Homo sapiens: one gene and its partners. The protein of the gene in region 2 interacts with the protein of the main gene of each other region in a pairwise test. Each region holds a gene or a part of one and is shown on either strand. Other genes may lie near its edges. The genes, in order: WDFY2, SYP, PITPNC1 and PPIF.

Evidence for each region.
Region 1: the proteins of SYP (region 2) and WDFY2 interact in binary tests that used the Homo sapiens proteins (3 or more experiments, as listed by UniProt).
Region 3: the proteins of SYP (region 2) and PITPNC1 interact in binary tests that used the Homo sapiens proteins (3 or more experiments, as listed by UniProt).
Region 4: the proteins of SYP (region 2) and PPIF interact in binary tests that used the Homo sapiens proteins (3 or more experiments, as listed by UniProt).

Annotation. Positions count from the first base shown.
Region 1 is NC_000013.11:51,755,283-51,762,974, forward strand, and holds part of WDFY2 (WD repeat and FYVE domain-containing protein 2), read left to right. Parts: exon of another isoform or gene 1-75; coding exon 76-177; exon of another isoform or gene 178-1,049; coding exon 1,050-1,180; exon of another isoform or gene 1,181-1,258; coding exon of another isoform or gene 1,259-1,350; intron 1,351-2,909; coding exon 2,910-3,018; intron 3,019-4,457; coding exon 4,458-4,487; 3' UTR 4,488-7,076; coding exon of another isoform or gene 7,077-7,100; 3' UTR 7,101-7,692. UniProt on the Homo sapiens protein: Acts in an adapter protein-like fashion to mediate the interaction between the kinase PRKCZ and its substrate VAMP2 and increases the PRKCZ-dependent phosphorylation of VAMP2.
Region 2 is NC_000023.11:49,189,897-49,197,588, reverse strand, and holds part of SYP (synaptophysin), read left to right. Parts: intron 1-3,227; coding exon 3,228-3,423; intron 3,424-4,125; coding exon 4,126-4,317; intron 4,318-5,825; coding exon 5,826-6,152; 3' UTR 6,153-6,156; intron 6,157-7,692.
Region 3 is NC_000017.11:67,687,970-67,695,661, reverse strand, and holds part of PITPNC1 (cytoplasmic phosphatidylinositol transfer protein 1), read right to left. Parts: intron 6,392-7,692; exon of another isoform or gene 6,289-6,391; intron 3,091-6,288; coding exon 2,774-3,090; 3' UTR 1-2,773.
Region 4 is NC_000010.11:79,343,129-79,351,034, reverse strand, and holds the start of PPIF (peptidyl-prolyl cis-trans isomerase F, mitochondrial precursor), read right to left. Parts: upstream 3,567-7,906; 5' UTR 3,487-3,566; coding exon 3,292-3,486; intron 1,960-3,291; coding exon 1,929-1,959; intron 1,371-1,928; coding exon 1,282-1,370; intron 1-1,281. UniProt on the Homo sapiens protein: PPIase that catalyzes the cis-trans isomerization of proline imidic peptide bonds in oligopeptides and may therefore assist protein folding. Involved in regulation of the mitochondrial permeability transition pore (mPTP).

The DNA of each region.
Region 1 (7,692 bases), on a different chromosome or scaffold from region 2:
GTTTCATCAGGGTCAGTGGTTTCCATTGTCCTGACTGCTGGCCACAGTGACCTGTTCTGTGCTTTATTTGACAAGACCCCTGAATGGTTGGACAGTGATTCCTGCCAAAAGTGTGATCAGCCTTTCTTCTGGAACTTCAAGCAAATGTGGGACAGTAAGAAAATTGGTCTAAGACAGGTGAGTGATATGGATGCTTCATCAAAATGTAATTATATGGAAATAGCTCAACCATGTGATCTTAGAAGAAATAACACCCCTGGGTGGGAGTTGTGGTGAGGGTAAATTATTATCCTGGAGTCACCTCGTGATTGCACAGTAATTTACTCTGTCTACCATAGCCCATTCCTACTGGATTCAGTTTCTGTAGTGGTTGGTTCCCAGTAAGCAGTTAGGGATGTGATTTTAGAATTCTGTTGGCCTCTATTGCAGTGCACCTTACAATTAGAGGTGTCATGCTTAGTTCGTATGGAAACCAGACCATGAAATTATATAAGTGGTGTTTCTCTCTCCTTATTTTACTTTCCCTCCTTCTGATTAATTTTAGTTATTTAGATCTACTTATAATACAGCATTTTCAATCTGATTCCATGGTTCTGTTTGGTCTTCCCCAAGGAAATCAAATGTTAGGTCACCTAGGCTTACCATGGCCAAAGTCAGCAGATTCAATCAGGTTTCCTGCATGTTCTCCTTCATCCAGCAGCATAATCTCCTGAGACGGCAGTTTCTCAGACACCCCGCTTTAAGATCACCTGGCCCCTGGGTGGTTCCTCTGTAGTTCCTAGTATGATCATTGGAAAGGACCAAGAGTAGGGAAAGCAGGAGAGTGGGGTGGTATCCCTGTCAGGTGTGTTACCCAACAGTCCTTGTTGAATAAACAGAGCCCCAGAGAAGAACACATCCAATGTGTTCCCTTTAGTTCTGGGGCTCTCTTGTTCAGCATCCTCACCTGGATGCAGTTGATTACACCTCTCTGCCAGGAGGGGTGAGATGCGGGGGCCTCAGGAGCTGAGGGAGCCGTGATGAGTATCTATTTTATCTCCCTCCTCCAGCACCACTGCCGCAAGTGTGGGAAGGCCGTCTGTGGCAAGTGCAGCTCCAAGCGCTCCTCCATCCCCCTGATGGGCTTCGAGTTTGAAGTGAGGGTCTGTGACAGCTGCCACGAGGCCATCACAGATGAAGAGTAAGTTCCTGCAGCCTGCAGACCGCTTCAGGTTAAGGCGAGAATTTAATCTGAGCCTTGCACTCAGCGCCGCAACCATCACTCAGGTTGCTCTAGTTTCTGCTGGTTTAGAATATAGTCCACGGCAAGCAGTAAAAGCTCTCCTTTGCCACCAAGAGATTTGTGGTATCCTGTGAGATGAGAGAAGAGAAAATACACTCAAAGAATTCATCTCTGTGTTCTTTCTAATTTCTAGGTTATGTGCCTTTAAATTAGCTGCTCCCAGAACAAACCCTTCTGTCTGCTCATTTACTTGAGAATTACCCAGGAGTATAAGGGCTCAGGATTCACTTTCTGTCCCAAGCTGGTATCTTTACAGGAGTTGAGTGAGTCCATGGGTCCAGAAGGTTTCATTTTCCGGGAAGAGCTAAGTCGCTTTACCCAAGAGGCAAATATTCCCAGTTGCCCAGTTACTCAGCTGGCTGCTTGTCAGACCTGCCCAGTAACCCAGGACATAGGTTACTTACCCCTTGGTGTGCTGTGGAGGTGTGGGGGCAAATCTATGTTATCTCTTTAGTGTTGGCTCATTGAAAGCTGCCCCCAGATGTAAACACAGTGCTCTGCAGCATTTCCCTAATTTTAGTGACTTACAGGAGGATCTGCAGGGTAGCTTGTCTTCTCAATCCTTCCAGCACCTTGTATTACAGTAAAATCATAAGTAGTCTTATTTATCCATATCAAATATAAAATAAGATGCCCTTGCATAAGTATGCATTTATGTTCATTGATTATTTTCTACTCATCATACGTGATGAAATTAATGAGAGTTTTCTCATTGAATTAGAGAGTGCAAGAGACCTTAGAGATAGCCTACTTTAATTCTTCATTTTGTAGCTAAAGACATAGACTTTAAGAGTTTAAGGGACTTACAGTTAAGCCTAAATCTTCTAAAAATTTAAAGTAACCATTTTAAGATACTGAAGATCTATCCTGCAGATTTAGCTATAGAAAAAAGGAAAAAAAAAAATTGTCCTGAGAGCCCACTGCAGTGGAGTGGGCCCCTTGAAGCATGATAAGAGCAGTCTCCTAGACTGCACCCTGCACCTTTTCCCGCCTCTGTTTCTTCTGCCTCTTCTCTGTGGAAGCACTTGCATTGCCTCTAGAGCACCTAGGCAGCTGACAAGTCTTCTTACTTAAAAAAAAAAAAAGTATAGGTAAAAAATAATGATGTTTGTTTTTTATTTTGTTTTGCTTGTTACAGCTTTAGAATACTATAGAAAAACCAAGTCTTCAGTCATACCAGTGAAAAAGGAAAAATGAATGGAGGGGGATAGTTTTCCTATTAGAATGACACTTAGTAATATCATGGGACACTTAGTACTATCTTGGTCCTTTTTTTTTTTTTAATTAGACTATTTTACTGGCAAGTCCTTCTGAGCTCAAACTTAGCAAAAGCCCTGTGGTTTTAAAAGCTCGGGTGGAGATTATCACAGACACCATTGGAGCAACATTCTCCAGAAGGACTTTTAGAAATTTTCATCTCTTTCCCATTTTAAAGACTATAAGATTTCTTGTATTTTTTTTTTATCATAACTGGTCACCAGGGAATAAAGGCAGATCTGAGGAGCATTCCTGTCAGTGAAGCAGTTTTAGCCACGAGGCCAAAATTTAGAGCCTAATGTCATCCTAGATCTCTCTCATTCATATGTCACCACCTTTTCCCCTCAGAAGCTTTCTTTGCTCCTTCTAGACGTGCACCCACAGCCACCTTCCATGACAGTAAACATAACATTGTGCATGTGCATTTCGATGCAACCAGAGGATGGTTACTGACTTCTGGAACTGACAAGGTTATTAAGGTAAGATGCCATCTTATTAAGAAGCTTTCCATCTTTGGCCTCATATAAATATACAGGAGCACCAAGAACATGGGAGGCACTGTTCTAAAGGTTATCCTTGGGTAGCCGGCCATGGTGGCATGTGTCTGTAGTCCCAGCTACTCAGGAGATTTAGGAGGGAGGATTGCTTGAGTCCAGGAGTTGAAGGCTACAGTGAGCTTTGATCACATCACTGCACTCTAGCCTGAGCAACAAAGCAAGACCTCATCTCTTAAAAAAAAAAAAAAAAAAAAGTTACCATTGAAGGTGAGTGTTTTTGAGAACCTATTACAAACCTGATACATGCACAGCCTCATCCCAGGCACTGGCTCTACACAAAGAAATAAGACAGAGCTCCAGCCTGCAAGGAATAGATAGTCTACTTGGGACAGACTAAAAAGACTGTAATAGGTCACATATGTAGCAGTCAAAACGGTAATACATATGAGAATTTATAGCACACTGAGCTCTACCTCCCTGACCCATTCTTGGAGGTCACAGCAGGATGAGATAGCTAAAATAACCCACTTTGGAAGCTACCAGATCTCCGTGACTTTGAGAGGAAGTTTAAAATAAACTCTGGGGCTGGGTGTGTTGACTCACGCCTATAATCCCAGCCCTTTGGGAGGTGAGACGGAGGATCACTTGACCCCAGGAGTTCAAGACCAGCCTGGCCACCATAGTGTGACCCTGTCTTAACAAAAAAATCAAAAATTAGCCAGACGTGGTGGTTCCTGCCTGTAGTCCAGCTACTTGGGAGGCTGACGTGCAAGAATTACTTGAGCCCAGTAAGTCGAGGCTGCAGTGAGCCATGATTGTGCCACTGTACTCCAGCCTGGGTGACAGAGCAAGACCCTGTCTCAAAATAATTAATTAATTAAAATAGGATAAACTCTGGCAGCCTCAGGTCCTTTATTTTTGAAAACGAGGTATCTTGTAAAATGGTTTGGAAGTTTAAATGGAAAGGACACAGCACGTGCTTGGCGTCCAGTTAATGGATTGAGTTATTTAATGGATTCAATCTATTTGGAGGGTGGAACAAATCTATATTGTCGCTTTCATGTTGGCTCATCGAATGCTGCCTCAGATGTAAACACAGTGCTCTGCAGCATTTCCCTTTTAGTGACTCACAGGAGGATCTGCAGTGTAGCTTGTCTTCCCAGTCCTCTCAGCCATTAATAGATTGAATCTGCCATGATTCTTCATGAGCTGCATCAAAATTTCAAGCTGTCATTGTCTTGTTTTTGAGCTTTATTTGAACTTTTTTGATGAAAAAAATATTTTACAGATTTGGAAATCATGTTAGTATAGTATGTGGTGGTTTGTTAAATGAAAAAAATTTCCTTGAAGAATTCAGTTCTAAGGACTGTTATCCTCAACACAATTTTAGTTCATTCTGTATCTTCTTTTTCTTTTTGCAGTTGTGGGATATGACCCCAGTCGTGTCTTGATGACTCTCCCAGGAATCAGAAAGATAGTATTTACTAAAGAAACGGTTGTTTTAACCCAAATCATTACCAGAGTGGTAAAGCAGACATGTGAGAAGTAAGAAAGAAACTAAAGACCCTGAATGAATTTGCAGATTACCCATGTGCACAGTGGGGACCTGGCCAGTGAGCACTCGCAAGGGGACTCTTCCAACTTGTTCATACAATATAAAAGAAGCTATTTTTTTAACAAATGGTTTATACAGTCTGGCTGTGCTGCATTGTTTTGAGTGTACCGAAAAATCTGTGTGGGGTGTTTAATTTTTATACTTTTCAACACCCCATTTTACTTGTTGCTTTGTCAGAGAAATAAGGGAGGTATCTACTCAGAGTATTTTGGTCATTATACTTTCTGTGTTTACTTCAACATGTGTCACGTGGCCAGCGGCTTTTTCTTCTCTTCCCTCTGCACCTACCTGCACCTTCTCTGCCTTTCCTGGAGGGGATGTATTTATGTTATTTATTCCCAGTGTTTCTGCTTTCATGTCCTCCTCAGTGGAGAGATTTGGAAACTCATCATGTGGATTCACCAGCCAGCTGCTGGAATTGCCTGAAGAGCGATTTGTTTGTAATGTCTGCCTCATTCACGTTCTTATGAAGTAGAAAAGACTGTGTTTCTGCCTCAGTTGCCTCTGTCTTTCCCACATTAAAAAAAAAAATGCTGTGAGAAAGCTGCTCCCAACCATGGTTATCACAGAAGTAGATTATTTTAACTCAGAGCTTCAACGATCAGTGCCTGGATCATTTAGAATTCAGTTGGAGCCTCCTGAGCCTCTTGTTTTAGCTTTTTTGACGCAGCTCTCCCTCACTCGTAACAATGAAAACAAATGACACACACACAAAATCCTACATCAGCGGCCCTCAACCTTGTTGGCAGCAGGGACCGGTTTCAAAATGAAACTGTTCCACCTCGGATCAGCAGGCATTAGCTTCTCATAAGGAGCACGCAACCTAAATCCCTCGCATGCGCAGTTCACAATAGAGTTTCTGCTCCTGTGAGAATCTGACGCCACCGCTGATCTGATGGGAGGCGGAGCCCAGGCAGTAACACTTGCTTGCCCACTGCTCACGTCTGATGGGTGCCCCCATTCCTCACAGGCTATGGACCAGTACCCATCTGCAGCCCAGGGTTGGGGACCCCCACCATACATGCTCTGAAAATAAGTGTCTTTAAGTTGTGTTTTTCTGTGTGACATCATCTCTGAACTTGAACATGTTCATTACGGCAAGATTGTAATCCTGCTGTATTCCTCGCCCTCTGTATTCTATCCCTTTAAAAACTAGATATTTAAACATTTTATCCTAATGTGTTTCATCAGAACACTTTGCACACTTTCTTACTAAAACGGTATGTGGGTGGTCCGAGACAGAATGGTACCTACAGTGCAGGCTATGTTTCTGTGGGAATGGAAAAGAGGACTTTAGAAAGTGAACCTGAAGAACTCTTATTTCTAAGGGAATCCAGTCAAGCTTGAGAAAATGAAATATTCTTGTGTGTAGTGATTCAGCTCAGGATATTGAAGTCCCTTTTAAAAATCTTATTTTCACCTGTAAAAATAGAATAAAAATTAATGGCAAGCCTGCGCCAGGTGCCTGCCCCTCCTAAGCACTTTACACGCACAGCTCATTCAACCTCACGTGTCGGGAGCATCAGGGAGCTCACCAGTCTCTTGAGGATCACAGGCCAATTGCTTGTCCTTCCCGACCCAAGCCCCACCCCACAGTGTCTTGCTCTCTTCTGATTTTACAGGTTTTTTGGCAGTAATACACATGGGAGTGAAATTGAAATCCTCCCTATTATTTTCCCTCTTTTCCTGGAAAGCCGTTTTTTGCCCTCACAATCATTCATTACTTCTCTAACTAGGGGGAAGTACTACAAGCTGTCCTCAGGTACTGCCCCTACGTGTGTTTCCCTGGGATGGGGCCTTGCTAGAGGTGATTCTGCTGCCCCAGCATTGGGAAGCAGGACCAGTGCATGTGCCCCATGCAGCCACGGTACATGGAAGCTGTCACTTGAGCCATCAGACCGGCTCAGCCCATGTGACCGGAGCTCTGAAGAGGCACACACGCATGCCCCGCACAGGCTGTTAGCACTTGTCGCCTCGCTGCCCTGGTCCAGACTACCCTTGCTTGCGTCAGTCAAAACTGTTGTAACTACTTTGAGTCTTTTCTGCATGATTGCTCTTTGAGAGAACTTTAACAAGGGAATTAAATTTAAAATATTCAAATATCTATTTTGTAGTTTATTACTAGAAGCTGCAGCCACTTACTAAGTTGTATGTAATATAGGACTGTGTGTTGGAAATGAGTAATAGAGCTGAATCACTCCATTTTCCCTTCCTAAACTTTGAGCTTGGCCTGCCGGCAGAGAGAGGAACACAGTATTAGGGCAGCAAAGGCCCAGGCGCCCAGCAAGCCTGTATGGGTTCTGAGATGGGTCTAGATGCGTTCAGACCTCATTCGGGAAGCAGAGTGTCCCCGTCAGATCACATATGTCCTCTACAGTCGCTCTGGCCTGTGACCTTGCACGCCACTCTACCTTCTCCCTCCCAGCCCACAGAGCCACTCAGAGGCTGAAGCCACTTCACAGCCCACTGGTGTTGAGAATCATCATCAGAAAACCAGATATGTCAAGGTATCCATTGCTCTTTCCTTTTCTCTCATCTGTGTGGGTGCTTGAATTTGGTGAAATGCGTTTAGCAAACCAACTGTGTGTTTGTAATACTGTGAATTCTTGCGTTTTGCATTAAGTGTCTCCCCCATTTTTGTAATTTGTAGAGAAATATGTGCTGGTGTTGGGTGTCTTCCAAGCATTTTATGGAAATGGAGGCTCCATTCCTTAGGAGTAAAAGCTGGCGCCAGCACTTGGCTCTTGTTCTGTCTAGGTGAACTCTCATAATTCTTGTTTTACCCTGTTGGATTTGCACTTTACATATATTTTTGCTCTATTACTTAAACATATAGCAGCTTTTACAAATAATGCCTAACATGCCTGCGCTGAGAAAGTGGCAGATCTACACATATCATACGCAGAGTTGTTCTCTACCTGATGGGGCAAAACCAACCACATGTTCTTGGTTCCTCCAAACGAATGACATTACTTGACATTACTGCCTGAGTGTATCTTCACAATAGCAAAATGGTTTGAGATTAAGCATTTGGAATCTTA
Region 2 (7,692 bases):
CTGAGCACCTGCCTTGTACCTGGCACTGCTCTGGACTCTAGGACTATGTGGTGAGCAAGGCAGACATAGGCTGTGGCCCTCTGGCTCTGTTCCAGCGAAGGGGTAAGGGACAGGCAATAAACAAGATACAAAAGTAAGACAGGTGTATATACATACCTTAACCCAGTAGGTACCCAATTAATGTTAGCCAATATTATTATTTAATCCCCATTCATTCATTCTATACACATTTTTGAGAACTTATTTTATATCTGGTACTACTCAAAGTGCTGGAAGCATGATAGTAACTAAAACAGACCCAACTCCCGCCAGGCACAGTGGCTCACGCCTGTAATCCCAGCACTTTGAGAGGCCGAGGTGGGCGGATCACCTGAGGTCAGGAGTTCGAGACCAGCCTGACCAACATGGAGAAACCCCGTCTCTACTAAAAATACAAAATTAGCCAGGCGTGGTCATGCATGCCTGTAATCCCGGCTACTCAGGAGGCTGAGGCAGGAGAATCACTTGAACCTGGGAGCCGAAATCGCGCCATTGCACTCCAGCCTGGGCAACAAGAGCGAAACTCCATCTCCAAAAAAAAAAAAACCAGACCCAACTCCCTACCTTCATGGAGCCTACATTATAACAAATAAATTAACAAAGAGGATAATAGCAGACTGAGAGAAACTCGAGGAGATCCTCATGTAGGGTTTTATGGTAGAGAATAGAATAATGAGGGGTGCTGCTTAGATATAGGGAAAAATTAAACCCAATTAAACAATTCTGACATTTATTGAGCTCACACTGTGTGCCGGGCAATACACTGGGTGCTAGGTGCACAAGAATGAGCACGGCTGGCATGGGCACTACCCTCACAATGATGTTTACCTCCTGCAGGGTGGGATGACAGAGACCCACAGACACAATCCCCGCACAGGTTTCTGAGACTCCCCCACTATTTGGCCAAATCACATAACCACTCTGGGTCTCAATTTCCTCATCTGTAAAAAGGAATACTAATAATATCTACCTCACAGGGTCGTGGTTAGCATTCAATGAGTTAATATTCATCAGGTGCTTAGCACAGTGCCTGGCACACAATAAGTGCTCCATCAGTGTCTGTTCAATAAGTAAAATAAATTTAAGGGACTCAGGAAAGAGGACAGGGGTTGAGTTGGAAACTGGGGGTCTTCGAGTACTGAGGGTAAATGTAGGCTCAAGTGATCACCCAGTGGGGAGATGGAAGAGTGAAAGTAGAAGAAAACCTAGCACAGGCCCTGAGCAATGATGGAAAAGAGAGGAGATGCCGGGAAAGTGTGGCCTGAGAGGCAGAGGGGCAGCCAGGTATCCATGGGTCCACAAAGGCAAGGGAGAAAAGAGTCTGGGGAAGGAGGGGGAGCTGGCAGCAAGGGACACTGCTTAGAGCCAGTCCTTTGGGGATCCACAAGACCACAACCATCCCCTGTGCCCCCTCCCCACGCCTCCCATGTCTAGAACTTTGGGTCCTAAGGCTCTAGCCCACAAGTCCCCTAGAAAAACAGTCTTGGCCCTGGGTCCCCCTGAGCAAAATCCCTCCCAAACTGCCCTAATACCCAAGGACCTCTCATTCCCTCTTAGGGACCCCCTCTCCTGACCCAGCCCACTAGAAACAGAAACTCAAACCCAGATGCAACTCCTAGCTCCATCATTTAGGAGCTGTACAACCTTGGGCAAGTAATAACCTTGCTAAGCCTCTGTTTATTCATCTGTAAAAAGGGTCTAATAATGCCTTCTTTAGAGAATTGCTGGAGGCTGTCATTAATGAGACATTTATGTAAACTGCTTAGTAGGTGACTAATAAGTGCAAGCCTCTTCCCTCAGGGCCTTTGCTACACAAAGGCATTGGCACCATTTGCTCAGTCTCAGGATCCTGGCCTCCAATCTGAGACTGTGCTCCAGAACTTCTCCCACAGACATTTTCTCTCTACAACCCCCACCTCTCCTCCATCACACCACAGGAAAGGCCTTAGTCCCAGGACACCTCCCCTCTTCCCTCACATACACACACCCTGTTCCAAGATCCCTTTACCCTCCTTTCTTTCTGTCTGTCTTTTCCTGTTATCTAGTCGCTGGCCTCTCCTCTGCTATGCATACATTTTTTTCTCTCGGGGACCTGAACTGGGGTGGGGGAGAAAAGTCAACATGAGATAGGGAGAAAACAAGGTTCAGATCTCAACTCTGACATTCCCTTGCCAGCTGTGTGACTTTAGGCAAGTTAATGCACTTCCCTGAGCCTCTGTTTCCGCCTCTGTACATTTCATTTGATAAACATTTCTTGAGTGTCTGCTAGGTGCCAGCACTGTTCCAGGGCCTGGAGATAAACGGAGGTGAAAACACAGGAAAAAGCCCTGCCCTCTTGTAGTTACAGCAAAAACCAAGATTAAAAAAAAAAAAAATACCTGGTATGTCAGATGGGTACCACTACTATCGAGAAAAGTGGAGCAAGGAAGCCAGGCTAAGAAGTGCTGGTTGAGAGAATGTTTCAATTTAATTTTAAGTAGGGAGATCAGGGAAGGTCTCAATGAGAAGGTGACAGTTGAGCAAAGCTTCAAGGAGATGAGGGAGGCCGGGCGCAGTGGCTCACGCCTGTAATCCCAGCACTCTGGGAGGCCAAGGCGGGCAGATCACAAGGTCAAGAGATCAAGACTATCCTGGCCAACACGGTGAAACCCCGTCTCTATTAAAAGTACAAAAATTAGCTGGGCGTAGCGGCGCATGCCTGTAATCCCAGCTACTCAGGAGGCTGAGGCAGGAGAATCGCTTGAACCCGGGAGGCAGAGGTTGCAGTGAGCCGGGATTGTGCCACCGCACTCCAGCCTGGTGACAGAGCAAGACTCCATCTCAAAAAAAAAAAAAAAAAAAAAAAGGAGATGAGGGAGTAAGACCCGAAGCTATCTAGGGGAAAAGCATTCCTGGCAAAGGGAACAGCCAGTACAAACAAAGATCCTAGGGAGGGAGGATGCCTGGCAAGTTCTAGAAATAATCAAGAGGCCAGAGTGCTTGGGTTGGAGTGAGGGATGAATAACACCTATCTCACCAGGATGTTTTGAGCAATCAGTGAAATGTGACTGGTACATAGTAGGTGCTCGATGAATGGTTATTTCCTCCTCTTCCTGGGGCCTTGTCAGAAATGGGGGGACCCATGATTGGGCTGGAGGGTTGAGGGTGTTCTGAGGGGCTGGGCCACACCTGCCCACCTCTGTTTGCAGGCTGCACCAAGTGTACTTTGATGCACCCACCTGCCGAGGGGGCACCACCAAGGTCTTCTTAGTTGGGGACTACTCCTCGTCAGCCGAATTCTTTGTCACCGTGGCCGTGTTTGCCTTCCTCTACTCCATGGGGGCTCTGGCCACCTACATCTTCCTGCAGAACAAGTACCGAGAGAATAACAAAGGGCCCATGCTGGTGAGTCCCCACAGCCACTTGCATGTAGGGACCATGGGGACACGGAACCCCAGGGACACAGCCATGCTCACAGACCACACCAAATCCCAGACAGGCCCACATGCAAACAGCCACCATAACAGCCACACATATAGTTGCTGCTGCTATTAATCCACACCAGGCATCCGGGACACAGAGTCATAGAGTCACGGAGACATACAGCCTATGCAGAATCCCAGACAGGCCCACACCTGAGAACCTTCCCACTCTCACACAACTACACAGCCTAGATCAAAGGAAGAGGCCCACAGAGGTTCGCTGTGACAGTCATGCCTGTCATCATGCCACACAGACACACTGATTCCTACACCACTGTACTCACATACCCTCAGCCTAGACACAAAATGACAAAAATTCCCACATGCAGACAAAAGTAGAAAGACACATTACTTTCCACAGATTCGGAAATCATCCCAGAGTTCCCCTCCCCCCAACACCCACAGCCACATATCACAATCACACTCCCACATCCTCTGTGTCATGTACACACACAAGCTCAAGCTGGGAGGGCCACCTTCAGGTGAAAGTGTTGTGGGCTTGAGAGCTGAAAAGGCAGGGGAGAGACAGGCCTCTTCTGGGGGACCTGTGATCCGAGGAGGCCCCAGGGCCTAGCGTGAAGCAGTCCACTCACAGTGCTGTCTTCCTCACCCCTGCCTGCCTTAGGACTTTCTGGCCACGGCTGTGTTCGCCTTCATGTGGCTAGTTAGCTCATCGGCATGGGCCAAGGGGCTGTCAGATGTGAAGATGGCCACAGACCCAGAGAACATTATCAAGGAGATGCCTGTCTGCCGCCAGACAGGGAACACATGCAAGGAGCTGAGAGACCCTGTGACCTCGGGACTCAACACCTCGGTGGTAAGCCCTGGGTGCTGGCTGGAGGAGGGAGAGTGGAAAACAGTACAGTCCGGCATGGGGAGTGGTGGAGTGGGAGAATAAGAGGAGAGTCAGGGGAGATCCAAGGGGTGTCCCTGAAGAACGCGTGCCAACAACAACGTTGAAGGATGAGCTAGCAATTGTAACCACTGTGACACCACAGACTGTCCCCAAAGGGGGAACATGACAGGTTTGGGAGACCTGGATCCCAGACCCAGCCTAGACATGTAAAATAAGCAACTCAGCACCCTCTTGGGACCTCAGTTTCCTCATGTGCAAAATGAAGGAAAAACTTGAAATGTTTCCCCACTTGGATGCCCCCTACTGGCTGGAGTCAGACTGTCTGCGCTCAAATCCCAGCTCTACCTCTTGCAAGCTCCCTGACCTGAAACTAGTCACAGCCTCTCAAGGTTCAGTTGAGCATGCATAATCGAAGACTAATAATAGGTCCTGCTCCAAAGTTGAGTATTTATTGAACTAAGAATACGGAGTGCTCAGAAAAGGGCCTGGCACAAGGTAAGTCGTATACAAGGGTTACAGATGCTAAGATTACAACTTTTCTTTCCTGTCACTTGCTGGATGTGAGACTTCAGGTAACTTAGCCTCTAGGGCCTCAGTTTCCTCAACTGTAAAATGGAGATAGTATTTCCTGCCCAAAACTGAATTTTAAGTGAGCTTATAACATGTAAAGCTCTTAGAAGAGGGCTTGGCATATAAGGAAAGGTACAGAAAGTGTTTTATGTCTTAAAATTACTTTATGTGGCCGGGTGCGGTAGCTCACGCCAGTAATCCCAGCACTATGGGAGGCCGAGGCGGGCAGATCACCTGAGGTCGGGAGTTCAAGACCAGCCTGACCAACATGGAGAAACCCCATCTCTACTAAAAATACAAAATTAGCTGGTGTGGTGGTGCATGCCTGTAATCCCAGCTACTCGGGAGGCTGAGGCAGGAGAATTGCTTGAACCCGGGAGGCGAAGGTTGTGGTGAGCCGAGATCGTGCCATTGCACTCCCGCCTGGGCAACAAGAGCGAAACTCCATCTCAAAAAAAAAATTATGCAAGTTTCATATATCTTATACATGTGCACTTATACATATATTTTATCTACATTTATTTAGATGCATGTTAGTGGTATAGCTATATTTAATAAGTTTGTATCCTTACATTTTACTATGAATATATTACAAATTTACATTTTAAACATGCATAAATGTGTATATAATGTGTATATGTGCAAATATGTAAATAATTGTATATGTAATACTGATAGATCGCAGCATCCCCAGGGCTCCAAATTCTTCTAACACGCCCACCCCGCCAGAGGTGATTTTTCTGCACATCGACGTTCTCGCACTGGGACTCAGAGAGTCTGGGTTTCAGAAACCCCCACCTTGCGGAGCCTACGGATTCATTCCCCGCATGCTCATTCCTGCACGCAGGGCCGCCAAGGCAATGGGCGGGGTACCACAGCCGAGCCTTGTCTCCCTGCAGGTGTTCGGCTTCCTGAACCTGGTGCTCTGGGTCGGCAACCTGTGGTTCGTGTTTAAGGAGACAGGCTGGGCCGCCCCGTTCCTGCGCGCGCCTCCCGGCGCCCCCGAGAAACAACCGGCACCCGGGGACGCCTACGGCGATGCAGGCTACGGGCAGGGCCCCGGCGGGTACGGGCCCCAGGATTCCTACGGGCCTCAGGGCGGCTACCAGCCTGACTATGGTCAACCAGCCGGCAGCGGTGGCAGTGGCTACGGGCCTCAGGGCGACTATGGGCAGCAAGGCTACGGCCCGCAGGGTGCACCCACCTCCTTCTCCAATCAGATGTAGTCTGGTGAGTGACCGGCGAGCGGTGCGGCCAAGGAGGGTACAAGGAAGGAGACGAGCGGGTCAGTGAACCAATAAGAGTCAGGGGTAGAGAGTACGTAAGGCGTTTACTGGGGCAAGTAAGGACTGAAGTTTGAAGGAGCCAATCAAGAGGCAGAACTACCTGCTAAGAGCTGAAAAACTAGCTAATGAATGGAGAAAAGAAGAATGGTGCTTCAAGATGGACAGAATGAAGAGCCAATGGGAGGGAGGTAGAAGGGCAACTCGGCGGAAAGGCGGGGGGAGAGAAGCAGAGCAACCAATAAAGGGAGGGAATATCGGGGGACTTGCGCAGTGGCGAATCAGCGGAGCGCAAGAGCCACGGAAGCGACGAGGAGGTGGGTCTTAGAAGTGACTGATAAGCCAATAGGTGATAAGGCCAATAGATGGTGAGGGTAAATGGGCGTGGATCTTGAAGGTCAGACGAGCTCACCAATCCGGGAGGAGGGGATAGATCTGCCGCCTCTCCCCAACGCTGGAGGGGAGGGAAGTAGTGTGGAATTTCAAAGGAGGAAGAGGGATAGGGTGGGGTCCTGGAAAGGTTTGCCGGCCTTCTTGCTGGGCCTTAAAAGAGAAGTGAGGGTCGGGGCTTGGTGGCTCATGCCTGTAATCTCAGCACTTTGGGAGACCGAGGCGGGCGGGCCGCTTGAGCCCAAGAGTTCGAGACCAGCCTGGGCAACATGATGAAATCCCACCTCTACAAAAAATACAAAAATTAGCCGGGCGTGGTGGCATGCATCTGTGGACCCATCTACTCAGGAGGCTGAAGTGGGAGGATCACTTAAGCCCAGGAGGTTGAGGCTGCCGTGAGCTATGATCCTGCCACTGCACTCCAGCCTGGGCAACAGAGCGAGACCTTGTCTCAAAAAAAAAAAAAAAATGGAAAGAAAGAAAGGAAGAAAAAAAGAAAGAAAGAAAAGAGGCCAGGTGAGGTGGCTCATGCCTGTAATCCCAGCACTTTGGGAGACCAAGGTGGGCAGATCACCTGAGGTCAGGAGTTCGAGACTAGCCTGGCCAACACGGTGAAACCCCGTCTCTACTAAACATATAAAAATTAGCCGGGCATGGTGGCGCACGTCTGTAGTTCCAGCTACTCTGGAGGCTGAGGCAGGAGAATCGCTTGAATCTGGGAGGCGGAGGTTCCAGTGAGTCGAGATTGCGCCACTGCACTCCAGCCTGGGCAACAGAGCGAGACTCTGTCTCAAAACAAAAAAAAAAAGAAAAAGAGAAGTGAGATTTCCCTCAGATAGGAGGGAGGATATAGGGGAGGAAAGGCAGGAGGAAAAGGCTAAGGGGTGGCTAAAAAGTGGGGGAAGGCAAGAAGGTGGCAATACTTGGATGGAGGTAGCTTCTGACACTGGGTTAGCCAGGATGGAAAGGGCATCCCACATCTAATTCATCAAAAAATCCTGTGGGTCCTACCTTCAAAAAATATATCCTTCATCTTCCACTGTCATCTCTCCCAGACCTCTTCTCAGGTCTCCATTTCCATTCTGTTCTACTC
Region 3 (7,692 bases), on a different chromosome or scaffold from region 2:
TGTCTGATTCACTATACTATATTTATATTTATATATATATATATATATATATATACACAGGTATAATACAATTTTGGTGAACAAAGTTGAAGGTTTCCATATCGCAGACAGAGGCACTGAGTTAAGGATTCTATTTCCCCCCAAACATGCTTAGCAAATTCAAGTTTCTGCTTTTTTTTTCTTCTAATTTCCATCATGCAGCCATTTGGCTTCCATCCTTCTAAGAATTATTAATGTTCTGTATATATACATCCATTGCAGGCTTGTATTCCACAATAACAAAGTCATGTATAGAGAATGTGAAATGATACTTGAAAACCAAGATATATAAAATATTGAAGTCATTTATGCCTTTTGATGACTGGGTTAAATATGCAAAGCAGCTAAAGGAATATTTACACCACCCACCCCCTTTTTAACTCACACAAAGCATATGTAGACAGAAAAACTGAACATACTTTAAGAGCACACGCTTTTTTTTCGGCTAAGAATCACACTATCATCGTAGCTTTGCAACTGATGTCTGTGGTAACATACTGGTTATAAAAGAAATGAAACTCACAAAAGGAAATTAGAACTTAGCTTCCTAAAGCATATAGAATTGTTAACCTTGACAGCAGAAGCTACTTTATAAAAAGGGAAAATAGCAATGCTCTTAATGGAAAAACTAGGTGCCAGATGTGTTTAACAGCCTGCACAAAATAAATACATTCTATGTGAAAATAATGACCCCATCCCACCTTGATTTTAGCTTGCAAATGGTAAGCAAATACATATACTATTTCAGTGTCTTCTGAAAGTAGCATTTTGCTCTCTAAAGCAAAACATTTTCATTAAGTACTACTGTGTGGAGAGGGAGGGATTGAGAAGTCCGAGGGGTCTGATAAAATATTAGGTTTTCCCACAAGCAAAAATCATGCTTCCATACCATGCATAGAAGGTGTCTTACTAAGATACTATCATTCTTAGGGAAGAGATACACTGTTGATCTAAGCTATTTGCAACAGGTTTCCTTTGAGTTCTAGGTTTATTCTTTTTTTTTAAGCTAAATATCAACCTATAGATAAAGAAATGATCTTGACAGTCTGACCTATGACTTAGAAAACTTTGGTGCTGGGCTCATGGGGCCAGCGCCTGCACCTTGGGAGAGTGTATCAACCTGAAAGACACTACACAGAGTGCTGAGCACTGAGAGGGAAGCAGGCAGGGTCCACTGGCAGAGAGGCTGTGTGAGAGAAGCAGATTATGCTCCTTGGTCTATTTTGTTTCCTTTGGGATCTGTGTTTTGGGAAGGTCCCTTTCCTGAGGTTGGAGGTTACGATCAGGAAGGCTAGCTGGGGCGTGGGCCTCCAAGTTGCCCAATTACTTCTTCTCTTCCTCTCTTGGAGGACAAAAGTCAATGCTGAGATTTGGCCTGCCCTCCCGTCTGTGTTTAAAGGCAGTGAGGTGCAAAGGTGACAGATTTCTCTCTTTGGAGCAAAGGAGAATTGTCTTTCTGTCACTTCAGTGAGTGACCTTGCCTCCTGTCAACCTTGATTCTAATCTTGCATTACCACTAGTTGAAGAAAGGAAAGCTAGACAGAAGGGCATCTATTATCACTCCTCCTTTTCACTCTACAAATAGGAGTCAGCAATTCTGCTCATTCTCTCCTCCCACTTGACAGTAGTTGCTTGATGTCTGTGACATTCCCAATATTTGTATTTCAAGTAAGGAGCAAGAGAATGACAGTCTTTTCTAAGGTCTGGTGGTAGGCAATCTGTTCCAGGGAATTCTGGATGTTACTAAGAGTAAAACAAGGAAGGGGATGGGAGACAGTTCTCTTTTTTATAGTTCATGCACCAGACATTCTGACCATGTTAAAGCCCAGTTAGCTTACTCTACCCTTGTACTTCTTTGAGTGGGCAGATAGTAAATGAATTCTATTCAATTAATTGCAAATTCTGAGAATCTTAATTGATGATGGAAGCTGACAAGTCAAGGTTTGTTGGTACCTGTAGAGAAAAAAGATGTTGCCTCACCTGGGCCTCTTGGTTCCTAAACTGAACCATTCCAAAATCAGTTATGGTCACATTCATCCATGCAATTCTTAAGGATTTCTGAGGCCACAAGGGCACAAAAGGGGAAAGTTATTAAAAGACAGAAACAAGTAGAATCTTTATTAAATTCTGTGGAAGGTATAAATGAGTTATTATTAATTGCACTTGGAGCCTCTATAGCTTGATGATTAAAATTTTCAAAAGTTTAGAGTTAATTAGGCTCCAAATCCTGAGTCAGACTAACCACAAAATAGGAATCTCAGTAACTATTGGTATTCAAGTATTAGTAATTAGCAGTTCAAAATTTAACAGCTAAGTATGTTATGCCTGAGAGTATTTTGGAGAATTTTAGATTTGATGAGAGGAAACTGACTTCACTATTTTCTACCGTACCTTGTAACAAAAGTGGTGCAAAGTTTTCATTCATTTATCCTTGAAGTCCATGCCAAACCTCATCAAATGCCCAATAACAAGGCTTCCTCTCTGGCATACAGCTATGTGGTTACAGAAGATTCCTTCTGTCCTTTGCAAGTCTTACATCTTACATCTAATATGATGCTGTGTAGCATACTTAGGGAATCATATTCTATGTGAAGTTACTGAGTCACATGCACACTGAAAGGTCGAAGGAACATGTTTGAGTGACAAAGCAGTCTTTTTCTCTATCAGAAGATTCTTAAAAAAAAACAACAACAACAAATGAAAATATAAAACCCCATGAGATATTTATATAAAGTTACTCAGATTTGGGCCGACATGGCTTATCTGAAGAGTGCATGCCGGGTAAATTCAGGGTGGCTTTTTTCTCAGGGTCTGGAAGTGTGAGAGTTTCTGGGGCAGACTTTTTCCGGGGCCGATCTTTGGGAACGGACAGAAATTCGGGTGCGTCTGTGGAGAGAGGGGTGGATGGAGCACTAGAAGGCGCACTGCGGACGGAAGAAGGCAGCAGGGGGATGCTGGAGATAGAAATTGCAGGTGGGAAAATGCCGATTTTCTTGTTGGTGGCTTCCTGAGTGGCTCGTTCAAATTCTCGGACTTCATCCATTGTCATGTCTTCAAGGAGAAAAACAGAAAGAAAAACGAGCAGTTATTTATAAGAGAGGCAAATAGATTCATCACTACCCTTGTTTTTACAGGAACTATGGGAACCCTATCATAAAGGGGCCTCTCCCGATTATACACCCAAAGTATCATTGAAATACCAAACCCCCAATTTTTTCTATTGGAAGCTACACCCTGAAAACAATATCCCTTTATGATTATCCATTTAAGATTTTCCAAAGCACTCTTCACAGTGAGTATTTTAAGTATTCTCAATAAGGACTTAACAGTAGAATACAGAACTAGACGGGGGAAATATGTGCCTGTGTGTGTGTATGTGTGTGCACCCGTGTGCATCTGTGTTGTTGTGGGTCTGGTGTGGGGTATTTGGAGCTATAATTAACTGGTCATATTTTTCATAAAGAGAAGGTAATTAAAACAATCAATGGCCCTGAAATGACACATATTATTGTCATTATTGTCAACTTTAGATCATGAAAGTATACCTTTATAGGGTAAACAGGTAAATCATCAGGATTTTTCAACATACTATCTTCTTTTTTTTTTTTCTTTCTGAGACGGGATCTCACTGCATCACCCAGGCTGGAGTGCAGTGGTGCGATCATGACTCACGGCAGTCTCGACCTCCTGGGCTCAAGTGATCCTCCTGCATTAGGGCCCCGTGAGGCTGAAACCACAGGTGCATGCCATAATGCCTGGTTTAATTTTTTTGTATTTTCTGTAGAGACAGGGTCTCGCTATGTTGCCTAGGCTGGTCTTGAATTCCTCACCTCAAGTGATCCGCCTGCCTAAGCCTCCCAAAGTGTTGGGATTACAGGCGTGAGCCACTGTACTCAGGCCAACATGCTATCTTCTTAATCAATACATATACTTTTTTATTCTGAGGGGCCACAAAGATGCTGTTGTTTCTGGTTTCCTGACTGTGTGTCGATCCTAAGAAGGTTCAGAGATTGTGTTTTAATAAATTCAGTTTCAAAAACACGTAAATCAACAATTTCACCACACCCTGCTAATCATTCCAAAGCCAAGAAAATAAAACCATTTCTTGAGGAAACTTAAAAAGAATAGAGAATGAAAGGAGAGGATCATTTAATAGTGAGGATTCTATTTAAAAGAAAAAAAAGCATGACTTGGAATTCAACAAATAAGACAGTGATACCACTGTTAATAATCATTGTTGGATAATGTAGGTTTTCCAAATACCTGAAATGTTCTTATTTAAGTGAGAAAGTAAAAACAGTATTTAAAAAATGTAAATCTTTCCCTAATGTGTTTAATGTATTATACATACTTCCTACATTTGAGACATAATATGTTGAAGATATATCACTGTGCAAAAATACAGTTCCTTAGTTCCTTCTCAGGGTCTATTTGCTCTTTATGGCTTGATATCTCTTCTCTCATGCTCAGAAACTCTATTATTACTGTTATTATTTATTTATTTATTTATTTATTTATTTGAGATAGAGTCTTGCTCTGTTGCACAGGCCGGAGTGCAATGGCGTGATCTTGGCTCACTGCAACCTCCACCTCCTGGGTTCAAGTAATTCTCCTGCCTCAGCCTCCTGAATAGCTGGGACTACAGGCACGTGCCACCATGCCCTGCTAATTTTTGTACTTTTAGCAGAGACAGGGTTTCACCATGTTGGCCAGGCTGGTCTCGAACTCCTAACCTCGTGATCCACCTGCCTCAGACTCCCAAAGTGCTGGGATTACAGACCTGAGCCACCGTGCCCAGCCTTATTACTGTTATTATTAATTATTGTTACCCTGGCTATCCCTGGTATCCTTTGCCATTTTTACTTGCTGGGAACAGGGAAAAGAGGAACCTGGGCTTATTAAAGACTGAGTCAAGGCCCAAGGCTTATCCTGGAGCAAAATGCAAAATTTAGTGCCCGCGGATTTTCTGTATCTGTTTTGGCCCCCCAGAGACCCATTTTTCATTGTTTCTTGTCCACTGCCATGTACTTAGCAGTTGAAACTTCATTAGATAATATTGGAGGGAATAACCAGCAGGAAACAATATAGCCACTTTGGAAATACTGAGTATGTAATGAATATTCATAACACAGTATTAATCCTTAGGACTTTTCTTTTTCTTTTTTTTTTTTTTTGAGACAGAGTTTTGCTCTTGTCTCCCAGGCTGGAGTGCAACGGCGAGATCTCGGCTCACTGCAACTTCCGCCTCCGGGGTTCAAGCGATTCTCCTGCCTCAGCCTCCCGAGTAGCTGGGATTACAGGCGTCTGCCACCACGCCCGGCTAATTTTTGTGTTATTAGTAGAGATGGGGTTTCACCATGTTGGCCAGGCTGGTCTCGAACTCCTGACCTCAGGTCATCCGTCCACCTCAGCCTCCCAAAGTGCTGGGATTATAGGCATGAGCCACCGTGCCCAGCTTAATCTTTAGGTTTTATAACATCTGAGCAAACCAGAAGTATTTTTCACAAAATGAAATCCTTAAGAGGATTTCCTGGGAACAATTATTAAAATTTTCTGAAAGGGAAAGTTTTTACAAAGGATATAAGTCATTATGACTATGTGGATAAGATATAAAATTCAGCATATATCAAGAAAAATTGTACCTATAAACTTACCAATTTTTAAAAACATGGAAGACTATTAAATGAGCTAAGAAGTGAGATTAAGGTTATATAAAAAGAGGCATTTATTTCACAATAAAGTTGAGACTGAGAAAAATTTTAGTGTATCAGGGTATGTTATGTTTTTGCTATGATAAATGGATATTATCTTTGAAAAAGCAGACTTTCTTAATCAAGTGGCTGAATACATTGTTCTACTCCACATAGCCAGCAGGGGGCAGAAATAATCTAAAGCACAGAATTTTGATTTTCCACTCCCAGAGGCTCTTAGAAGTTCCCGTCCTTGAAGGCTTTGAACCTGCTCAATTGAAAAGACTTATTTCCTCACTGCTGTGTTCATGGATGTTAATTTTGCCTAATTTCAATCTAATTTGTCCCTGCTTGGGTTGATGATCTAAAATTCATTTAGCACCCATGCAGTTTTTATTTGTGACAAAGAGCCACCTCCTGATTTTCACTGCTTTTCATTATGATACAGGAGAAAGACTAAGGAAAAATAAATGTGCTCCAATTTCACGGAATTCCAAAGGATAATGGAAATGTCATAAGCATTCAAAATAACCACTTTGTGTAACTTCTCCGGTGGCAGGCATCTTTCACCCTGAAGTCACGGGAACAACGCTGAGGGGCAGCCAGAGATTATGTGGGCTTTTCCATGGGAAGAACCACTCTACGTTATCACCTTCTACATAGTAAGTGGACTTTATTTTTTATTTTACTTTATTTATTTATTTTACTTTATTTATTTATTTATTTATTTGAGATGGAGTTGCACTCTTGTTGCCCAGGCTGGAGTGCAGTGGCACAATCTCTGCTCACTGCAACCTCCATCTCCTGGGTTCAAACGATTCTCCTGCCTCAGCCTCCCGAGTAGCTGGGATTACAGGCATGCGCCACCACGCCCAGCTAATTTTGTATTTTTAGTAGAGACGGGGTTTCTTCATGTTGGTCAGGCTGGTCTTGAACTCCCGACCTCAGGTGATACGCCCGCCTTGGCATCCCAAAGTGCTGGGATTACAGGCGTGAGCCACCGCACCCAGCCATGGACTTTAATTATAAAGTAATAATCACAGTAAAACTGAAAGAAAGCCAAGCCAAGGGGCTTATAAGCTGTGAGAAAATCACTGAGCTTAGCATCTTTTAGCCATCTGGTGTCTCCTCTTTACCTGTGGCTTCTTCCTTTGTTTGCCTGGTCATATTTATAGTGAATGGCTTTCAGAGTGGCTGAGGGGGAACTGGGGCCCAACATTTCTAAAAGAAAAGGTAATTGAAAGTGATAGAAATTCAAGGAGAGTTTCCTTAAAGAGCACTTCTAGGGGGAAGTCCTACTGGAATTGGTCTGTGCATAGAGAGGAAACGCCTCTTGCTCCAACAGTTTCCTGCAAATCAGATCACTGCATGCAAAATGGGAGAAGAGTTAGGGCCCTTGCAACCTCAAGGGCAATCACATGCAACCAGTTGCAGCACATGAGACTTGCAGGGCACATTCCAAAGACATGCTCCAAAAATTTAACTAAAAATTTCCAAAGTGCAATCAGAAGGTCTTCACAATTCTAAAGGATCCATTTATGACAACAGCCACATCTAAATTTCCTAGAACTACAGCATTGATTTTTTTTTTTTTGAGACAGAATTTTGCTCTTGTTGCCCAGGCTGGAGTGCAATGGCGCGATCTTGGCTCACTGCAACCTCTGCCTCCCAGGTTCAAGCAATTCTCCTGCCTTAGCCTCCTGAGTAGCTAGGATTACAGGCATGCGCCACCACACCCAGCTAATTTTGTATTTTAAGTAGAGACGAGGTTTCTCCATGTTGGTCAGGCTTGTCTCGAACCCCCGACCTCAGGTGATCCACCTGCCTCGGCCTCCCAAAGTGCTGGGCTTACAGGCATGAGCCACCGCGCCCAGCTGATTTTTTTTTTTTTTTTTAACACCTACTATGTATTATTCTGGAGACTGGGCTAATGGACATGAGGACTCAAGGCGGAACCCAAAGA
Region 4 (7,906 bases), on a different chromosome or scaffold from region 2:
TACCCAGCCCAGCAGCTTTCCCAACCCTTGCAGACCCAGGACAGAGTCTGCCCAAGGCTGACATCTTTCCTCAGGCCTCAGCTAAGGCCCAGGCAGCCGTGGCCAAACCTGCATGGGGCACCCATGGCCAGAAGAGCCTGGTAGCAGCCCCTATGCCTAGCGCTGCCCAGCCCAGGCCATGGCTGGCTGCTGTTTTCCTGAGATGGGATCCGTGGGTAAGAGAGGGGAACTGACCAGCCCAGCTGAAGCATCCACAGGTGTCAATTAGGTGCTCCCTAATTGATATCCCTCCCAACGGATGACTCAGGACTCTGGTCTGGACTCCCGGTGCCACCGCCTTGTGCCAGGGAGCCCTCCCGCGCTGGAGTTCCCACCCTGGCTCAGGACTTCCACCTCAGCTCCTACTTTACCATCAGCCTTAGGGCTGGGCCAGGCCTGCCGTCCCTGTGTTCACCCCGTATCCAGGCTTCGCCGCACATAGACGTCCAGTCCCAACCCGCTGCCACTTACCACGGTACGATGACGGCCACTGGGTCAGGGTGGAGGGAATGGGGAGAGAATTCCAGGCAGGAAGGTCTTCAAAGAGGTCATGACAGCCATGCCCCTGCCTCCAGGCTCTGCCTGCCCAGGACACCCAATCCCTGATCTTGAAGGTCTGTGCTAATAGAAGACCAGCCCCAACACCACCTGGGTCCTGACCCACAGGAAGCTCCTGCTACAACACCTACCCCCAAACCTCTGACACAGCAATACCAATGCTTGTGAAAACTGAGCATGACACATGACCGAAAAACATTCATTTCACCGAGAATAATGCCTTTCTCTGGGAAGGGAAGCCCCAAGTCCTGGCGTGTGTGTTCCTGCCCTGGACCTGTCTTCCTCCTCCGCCTCCTCCACTTCTCTCTCTCCCTCTCTTATCTCCCACACCAGTGCTCAGGGGCACACAGGGGACAAGGTCAGAGACCACTGGAATATGCTGGCTCTTCAAAGTCTTCAAGGCCACCCCCAGCACATCCATCTCCCAACCCAGCTCTCTCTTGATAGACTCCACCTCCCAGTCCCCCGGGCAGGGCCTGCCACTGACCTGGAGTGGCAGCGGGTTGGGGCTGGGCTTCCATGTGCAGTGAAGCCTGGATACAGGGCTAATGCAGGGAGGGCAGCCTGGCTGACAGAGCAACTGCAGCTGCTCTGCTCAGCACCTTCCTCATACCAGGCATCTTCACACACCCACAAGGCAGCTCCTGCTCTCATCCCCCCTTACAGAAGAGGAAACTACATTACCTGGCACATGAAGGAAGGGATCACCCTGTGGAAGGTGGAGCCTTTGTAGCCGAAGCCCTTCTCACCAGTGCACAGGGCTCTGAAGTTCTCTGAGGGTCGAAGAGAAACACAGGTCAACAGGGCCAGGCCCCAATTCCAGGGTCATACCCGTTCCAGCCAAAATCCCTGCTACATCCCCAGCAGTGAACAGGGGGATAAAGACTCTGGCCCACCTCTTGGGTCTGCTCTGCCCAACTCGCTATGTAACTGGACAAGTCACTCCCCTTCCCTGTCCTCAGTACCTGAGCACTGTGACAAGAGTACAGGCTCATGGCTGTGCTGGCCAGCAGGGCACGGACTCAAGGGCTGTGTGCCCATCACCCTGCCTCACTGGGCACCAGGAGTGGGGAAGTCTCCGGGAAATTTACATGTGCCTTCCACTGGCTCTGAGGCTCCCAGCTACTATGAGAGAGGAGGGCAGAGCCAACGTTGAGGCCCAGAGAGGGATGGCAGGGCTGCCCCAGAGCACCCAATGGCTGAGCCACACATGGAGCTCCCATCTGTCAGGGGTCTCTGAGCCCCGACTCTTCTCATCACGCCACCCACCTTGCCCTGCCTGGCCCCCTTCCCTCTAGACCCATCTCAGAAGGCCCCAGGCCCTGTCTTACCAGCTGTCTTTGGGACGACATCTGCCTTCAGCTGTTGGGGGAGAAGAAGGACAAAAGAGGATGGTCATTGGAGAGGCAGGTGAAGGTGGGTGTCTCTCAGCACCCACCCACCCCCACAGTGGCCAAGGAGGCTAAGGAAGAAGCACGTGGACATTCCATTCCCATTATTGCCAACCCCCATGGGAGGCAGCTCTATCATTTCTGGGAGCCGTTTCCTGAACCCAAGGCTGGAGGAGGTGGCCTTGGTTTCCTAATCTGTCAGAAGAGATGACAATGCTATCTTGGCCTACTTCTGTGGACACAGCTGGCAGTGCTCCCACAGCTGGGCCCAAAGCATCAGAAATTCAGGGACAAGAGAGTGTGTCTAAGGTAGAAGCCAGACCAGCTCCTCCATTCGGGGTTGGGAAACTGAGGCCCAGGGAGAGGCATGAGGGTGTGGGGAGGGAAGGCTGAAGCCCCATCCCAGCCAGCCTCTACCCTCGAAGCTGCAAGACCCACCCTGGAACCAAATGGAAGCAGGAAGGGTGTCCCTATTTTCCAGAAGAAACTGAGAATGAAGAAGAAATACTAAGGGCTCCCTGGGATACGGGCCAGTCAACACAAACAGACCCCTGCTGTCAATGTGTGGCCGACCTGAAGGCTCCACTAGGGCTTTCCCTCTAAAGCTACCCTGGTGACTGTTTCTTACTTTGCTTTAGAAAAGACCCAAAAACAGAGTTAGGGGAGGTGCTCAGTGTGGCCCCCAAGGACAGTGGCAGGGGTTGAGGCGCCGGGCACACTGTCTCTGAGTGTGTCCCGACTCGCAGGAGGGGCATTCTGGGGTCCACCAGGTGGCCGGGGCCTGAGGCCTACTGGGCCCGCACTACTGCTGGAAACCACCTCTCGCTCCATTTCCCAGCACCCCCAGTGTGAGCCCGACCGCAGGGGCGGGGCCGGAGCCAGGAAGCGCTCCGTGTTGTGCAAGGGCCGCCACGTGAGCACCCGCTGGGCCACGACGCTCACCCCAAGACCCCCGACACCCACCTCGGAGCTCCGGATCTAGGCTCAGCCCCAGAAGGCTCCTGGAGCCCCTCCCTCGTGCCCGGGCCGGCCCAGAGGTGCTGAGCCCTCCCTCTCTGCGATCTGACCTTGAGCTTTCTCCTCCACACGTGCCCTCCCTCCCGTCTCCCCCGCTCCAGTGCTCCGAGGGAGGCCGGAAGAAATCATTCTGACGCCCATTCTCAGAAATGGGGAAACTGAGGCCCAGAGCTCGGCATGGGGAGGCCCAAGGTCACCCAGCGCGCCCGGCACCGCGCCGCCCGGGGCCCAGGGCTCTCCCCGGGCCCGTGTCCCGCGCCCAGGCCGGCCCTGCGAGCGGTCTCACCTCCAGCACCACGCGGCCGAGCGGCTTCCCGTTGGCGTCCACGTCCAGGTACACGAGCGGGTTCCCGGAGGAGGAGGAAGAGGACGGGTCGCCGGAGCCCTTGCTGCAGGCGCGGGCCGCGGGGAGGCGCAGCGGCACGGAGCGCGGGACGGAGAGCAGGCCGAGCCAGCGGGAGCCGCAGCGCAGCGCCAGCATCGCGGGCGCGGGTCGGGCGGGACACGGGCGGGGAGAACACAGAACTCAAACTGACGTCGCGCGCGCCCAGAAGGCCGAGTCCCGCGCAGCCGCGCGCCGCAGCCTTTATTGGCTTGCCCAGGTTCCCGGCCCTGCCCCCGTCCCGCCTCCTCCAGGCCTGTCCGTGGACTACCCCTGCCGGCCGCAGCGGGCAGCGCAGCCAGCCGGTGGGGCCGCGGAGCGTGAAGTGCTTTGAAACACTCCCGCCTCCAGGCCCAGAGACCCGGAGAACAGACACCTGGCAAAAGGTTGCTGGTTCCATGTTTATTAAGGTACCAGCAGATTTTTTTAAAAAAAGAAAAACTGCTAAAACGTAATTAATTCCAAAATATGAGCATCTATACGTTGCAATTTGAATATAATAGCAAAAGTCTACCTTTGAGCCCTTTGCAGGTAAGGCTCAGGCCAAATAAGCTTCCCTGCTGCCCTAGGTCCTGCAGTCTGAGAGGGTTAGAGAAAGGTGAGATGAGAGGCGGGATTAGTGAGCTAGAGGCGCAAGAGGGAGGAGATAAGCTGAGACACCTCCCATGATGCCCCCTAGCCTGCTTGTCCCGGCCTGGGCCTGTCTCTAGTTGTTTCTGGGGACCAGACCTGCTTCTAGCAAGACTGAAAACGCAGCCTGGGCTCATCATGCTCCTTTCAGGCCCCCAGCCCTCCCCAGGACTGGGTCTGATCCCTCCTCCTAGGACCCACACTGACAGCCCCGGGGCAGACTGCCAGCTGCCCCCTCCCATCAGCATGCACCCTGGGAGGGGACTCAGTGGGGAGACCCACAGCAGGAGCATTTAAACCCCACGTGCTGAAAGTGGGCTTCCCAGCAGCCAGAGCCACCCTCACTGCAAGGTGGTGGGAGGTCTGCAATAAATGGATGCCACGCAGGGACCTGAGAGAGCATCTGGCCCAACACTTGTACTGTCCCCAGGGGAAGCTGAGGCCTGGACACAGGAAGGCACTGGCTAGGGCTAGGGAGCCCTGGAGTATTGCTACCAGCTTGCACCAGTGCTCCAGGCCTCTCTGGGCCTCAGTTTCCCATCTGGAGGGTAAGGGTGCGATCATGCTCCTCATCCTGCTTTTTTCTCGTGTCTGTTCTTAGGATAAAATGAACGAGAGAGACATGGATTTGTCAACTAAGTACTGTGCCTGTGGGCATCTGTGATGGACAGAGTCTGGACTGTCTTTCTCACAGTTTGGGATTCAGAGAGCTGCGGTCTCAGTTAGAGGCCTGAGGGGTCAGAGAAAGGGGTGGGGCTGAGCCTTGGAGGCAGGTGGGCAGGAGTAGGGACCAGCTCTGGACTGACCTGCCCCAGATCCTGAATGGGCTCATGGGAACAGGTCAGGCAGCAAAATGCCAGCCAAGCAAATTCATGAGGTCAGAGCAGTGCCCTAGCTTCATAAGAATGCTAGCTTGGCCTCTGGAAGTTTGGCTAGCTTGGCTTCTGGAAGTTCATAGCCCCCTTCTCCGATTCCTGGCCTAGGAGGGGCCTAGGCACCCAGTGAAGCCCAGGTGGGATGCATTCCAGGTCCCAGCCCAGAATGGGGCCTCACTCTGCCCTGGGGAGCAGCCCCTCCTTTCTTATGATTGTGCCCTGAGGTGAGCAGGCCTGAGTGGGGAGCCCACTTGAGCCCTCAGCACATGTCCCAGACCTTCCTCTACCAGTGCATCCTGTGGATTTGAGAGTGGAGGAATCACGCCATGTGCCTTGTCATGAAGCTTCCTTAAGGCCCCAGGCTTCCCTGCGGCCAGTTCCAGGCCCTGAGCTCACAGGACCTTCAGCCACAGCAGGTAGCTCAGCGTACCCTGTTGTTTCTCAAGCCTGCTCCTGGGGGGACTCAGTTTATGCCCCATCCTGATGAAGCATGAGCATCCCCACCCCAGGGGAGTGCTGCCTTCATTCACTTGACCACTTCAGTTCTCAGAACCCTTTCCCAGCTGTGAACTCTGCCTGAGAGACAGCTCTGTTTTGCAGATGGGGAAGCCAGGCCCCAGGGGCTGGGGAGTGAATTGCCCAAGGGCAGGCTGTTGGAACTGGGACCAGTCTGTCTGACTTCACAATCAGGGTTATTGCATGTCAAACCCTTCTCACTCTCACCACGAAGCTGGTCCTTGGGACAGGGTGGGGAGGCAAGAGAGATAAGCCTGGGCAGACAACACAGTAAGATAGAAACGGTGGAGTTGGCCAGGGGGCTATGGAGCTCAGGGACTAGGGAGATGGTTTTAATAGTGAGCATGAGCTGAAAGGCCTGTGGGGACCCAATCACAGAGGGCTCTGAAGGCCTGGCTGAGGTCTGACATTGTTGGATAGCACTGGGGAGCCATGAATAGTGCAAAGACTCCATGCTGAGGACTCTGGACTGGGAACCAGCTTCTTTCATTCATGTTACTCCTTCCACTCTCTTTGGAAAATCAAACGTCATCACTACCTCCTAAGCCAGAGAAAAGCCTACCTTCCCCAAAGGCTTAGCTATGATGTCATCCCTTCCTGTTCTGTTCTCAGTGGTATCAGGAAGAAGGATAGTCTATAGGCTAAGCCATGAGCTGAACACATGCCCAGCCCTTGAGGGCTCCGGGCCCAGGTGACATCAGGCAGGTGTTAGCACTCACCTGGCTCTGAGGCTATTTATAGACTGTGTTATCCTCAGAAACAGCAGTGTTTCTCTCCACTCAGCTCACATGGTTTTTTATCCAGGGTGCTGATGGGTTTTGTCACCTAGGGATCCTGTAACACCACCTCTAGGCCTCACAAAGCCAAAGAACAATCAGTTTGTGCTAAGCTCAGAATCTCATTCAGGGGTTGCAAACTCAGATGCCTGCGGGGGCCAGGCAGGTGATACACATGAGTGGTGCAAGCTGGTAAGTATGTAGGGAGTGAGGGGAGGTGGCACTGTATCCAGATAGCTAATGGATGTCCCAGGTAAAGAGGTAGCTGCTGCCCAGGCCAGCCAATTATTGTATATGGGACTATGGGTCCACACAGGCCACCCAGGTTTTCTCATCTTTCAATAAAAGCTGAAGACTTTAAGTTTTATAGAAATCTAGTTTTCAAATTTTTGAAATGAATTTCAAAATAAAATTAAACACCGAATGAACTGTAAACACCGTATCCAAACTAGATGAGGACTCTGGGCTGATAGTTTGTAAGCTCTGATTTCCACTGTACAGGTGAGAGGACTGAAGCTCAGAGAAGGATGGGGAGTGGCCCGAGGCCATACAGCTGGGCAGTACCAGGACTGTGGTCAGACCCTCTCTTCACTCTCCCCAGGGCCCTTTCTGCAAAGTTCACTCAGCAGACATGTTTTCAGAGCACCTACTGTGTTCTGAGCCCTGAGCTTCACCCTGGGGATTCAGAAGGACAAAGACAGGGACAGGAGGTTATGGTGTCCTGAGATGCTGGAACTGCTGAACAAACCTCTCCCAGGTAGCCCTGTGTGTGGCAGGAGTGAACGCTGTGGTTGTCGTGGGGTACAAAGTTACAGTTGTTCTGGAGAGACCCTCCAGGAGGGGCTGGGGGTGAAGGTAGCCCCGGTGTGGGCATGAGGTGGGGTTTCTATAATATTAAATATCATGAAGGCTGAGATCATTACCAGTGCCAGTCACTGGGTCATACAACCTGTGCTGCCAGCCTAGACAATGGTCCTTAGGTAGGATGAGGCCATGGACTTCATCTGTCTGGTTATGCTTGAGGGGTTTGGGGTCCAGGATAGCATCTGTCATGGGAAGGGAAACTGAGAGAGAGGTTCCCCGCGACTCAGAAAGCCACCAGACCCTTCTACTGGGTTGCTGTGGGACTCTCTGGGGATGGAGTGTCCCCCGTGGCCTTTGCAAAGTCAGTACATTCATCATCCTCTCTCTGCTGGCTTCTAAGAACCAGACCATGATGGGGAGGCAGAGGCAGAGAAGGGAGGTTCCACTAAGGCCCAGGGAGGTGGTGGGCACAGTGATCAGAGAGAGACCCACAAGGGGAAGATGGGGCGAAGCTCTCCTCTGGAGTCCAGCTGGTCTTTTACTCGTGTGATCTGGATCACTGCGGGCCACTGAGAGCGGAGCCAGTGTGGTAGGGTGGAGCTCAGTAGGGTGTGGCTCACCCTCAGCTGCTGGGCTCTCACACAACCTGCCTGGCCACAGCCCCCTGCAACTCACAACTCAGCAGAGCTTGCCTTCTGGGAGTATCTGCAAGATAATCCATGTTTGTTGTTTGAAGCCACTAAGTGTTGGGTCATTTGCCATGTGCAGTGGATAACTCATACCCATAGTACCCCACCCCAGCCAGGACTCCTGGAAGATCCCATTGCTCCATGCACAGCCAGTCCTGGATCTGCTGTCTCAGCAAGCTTGGTCACCAGCTCTTGGCAAGGACCTCACGGGCATGGTCAGGGAGAACTG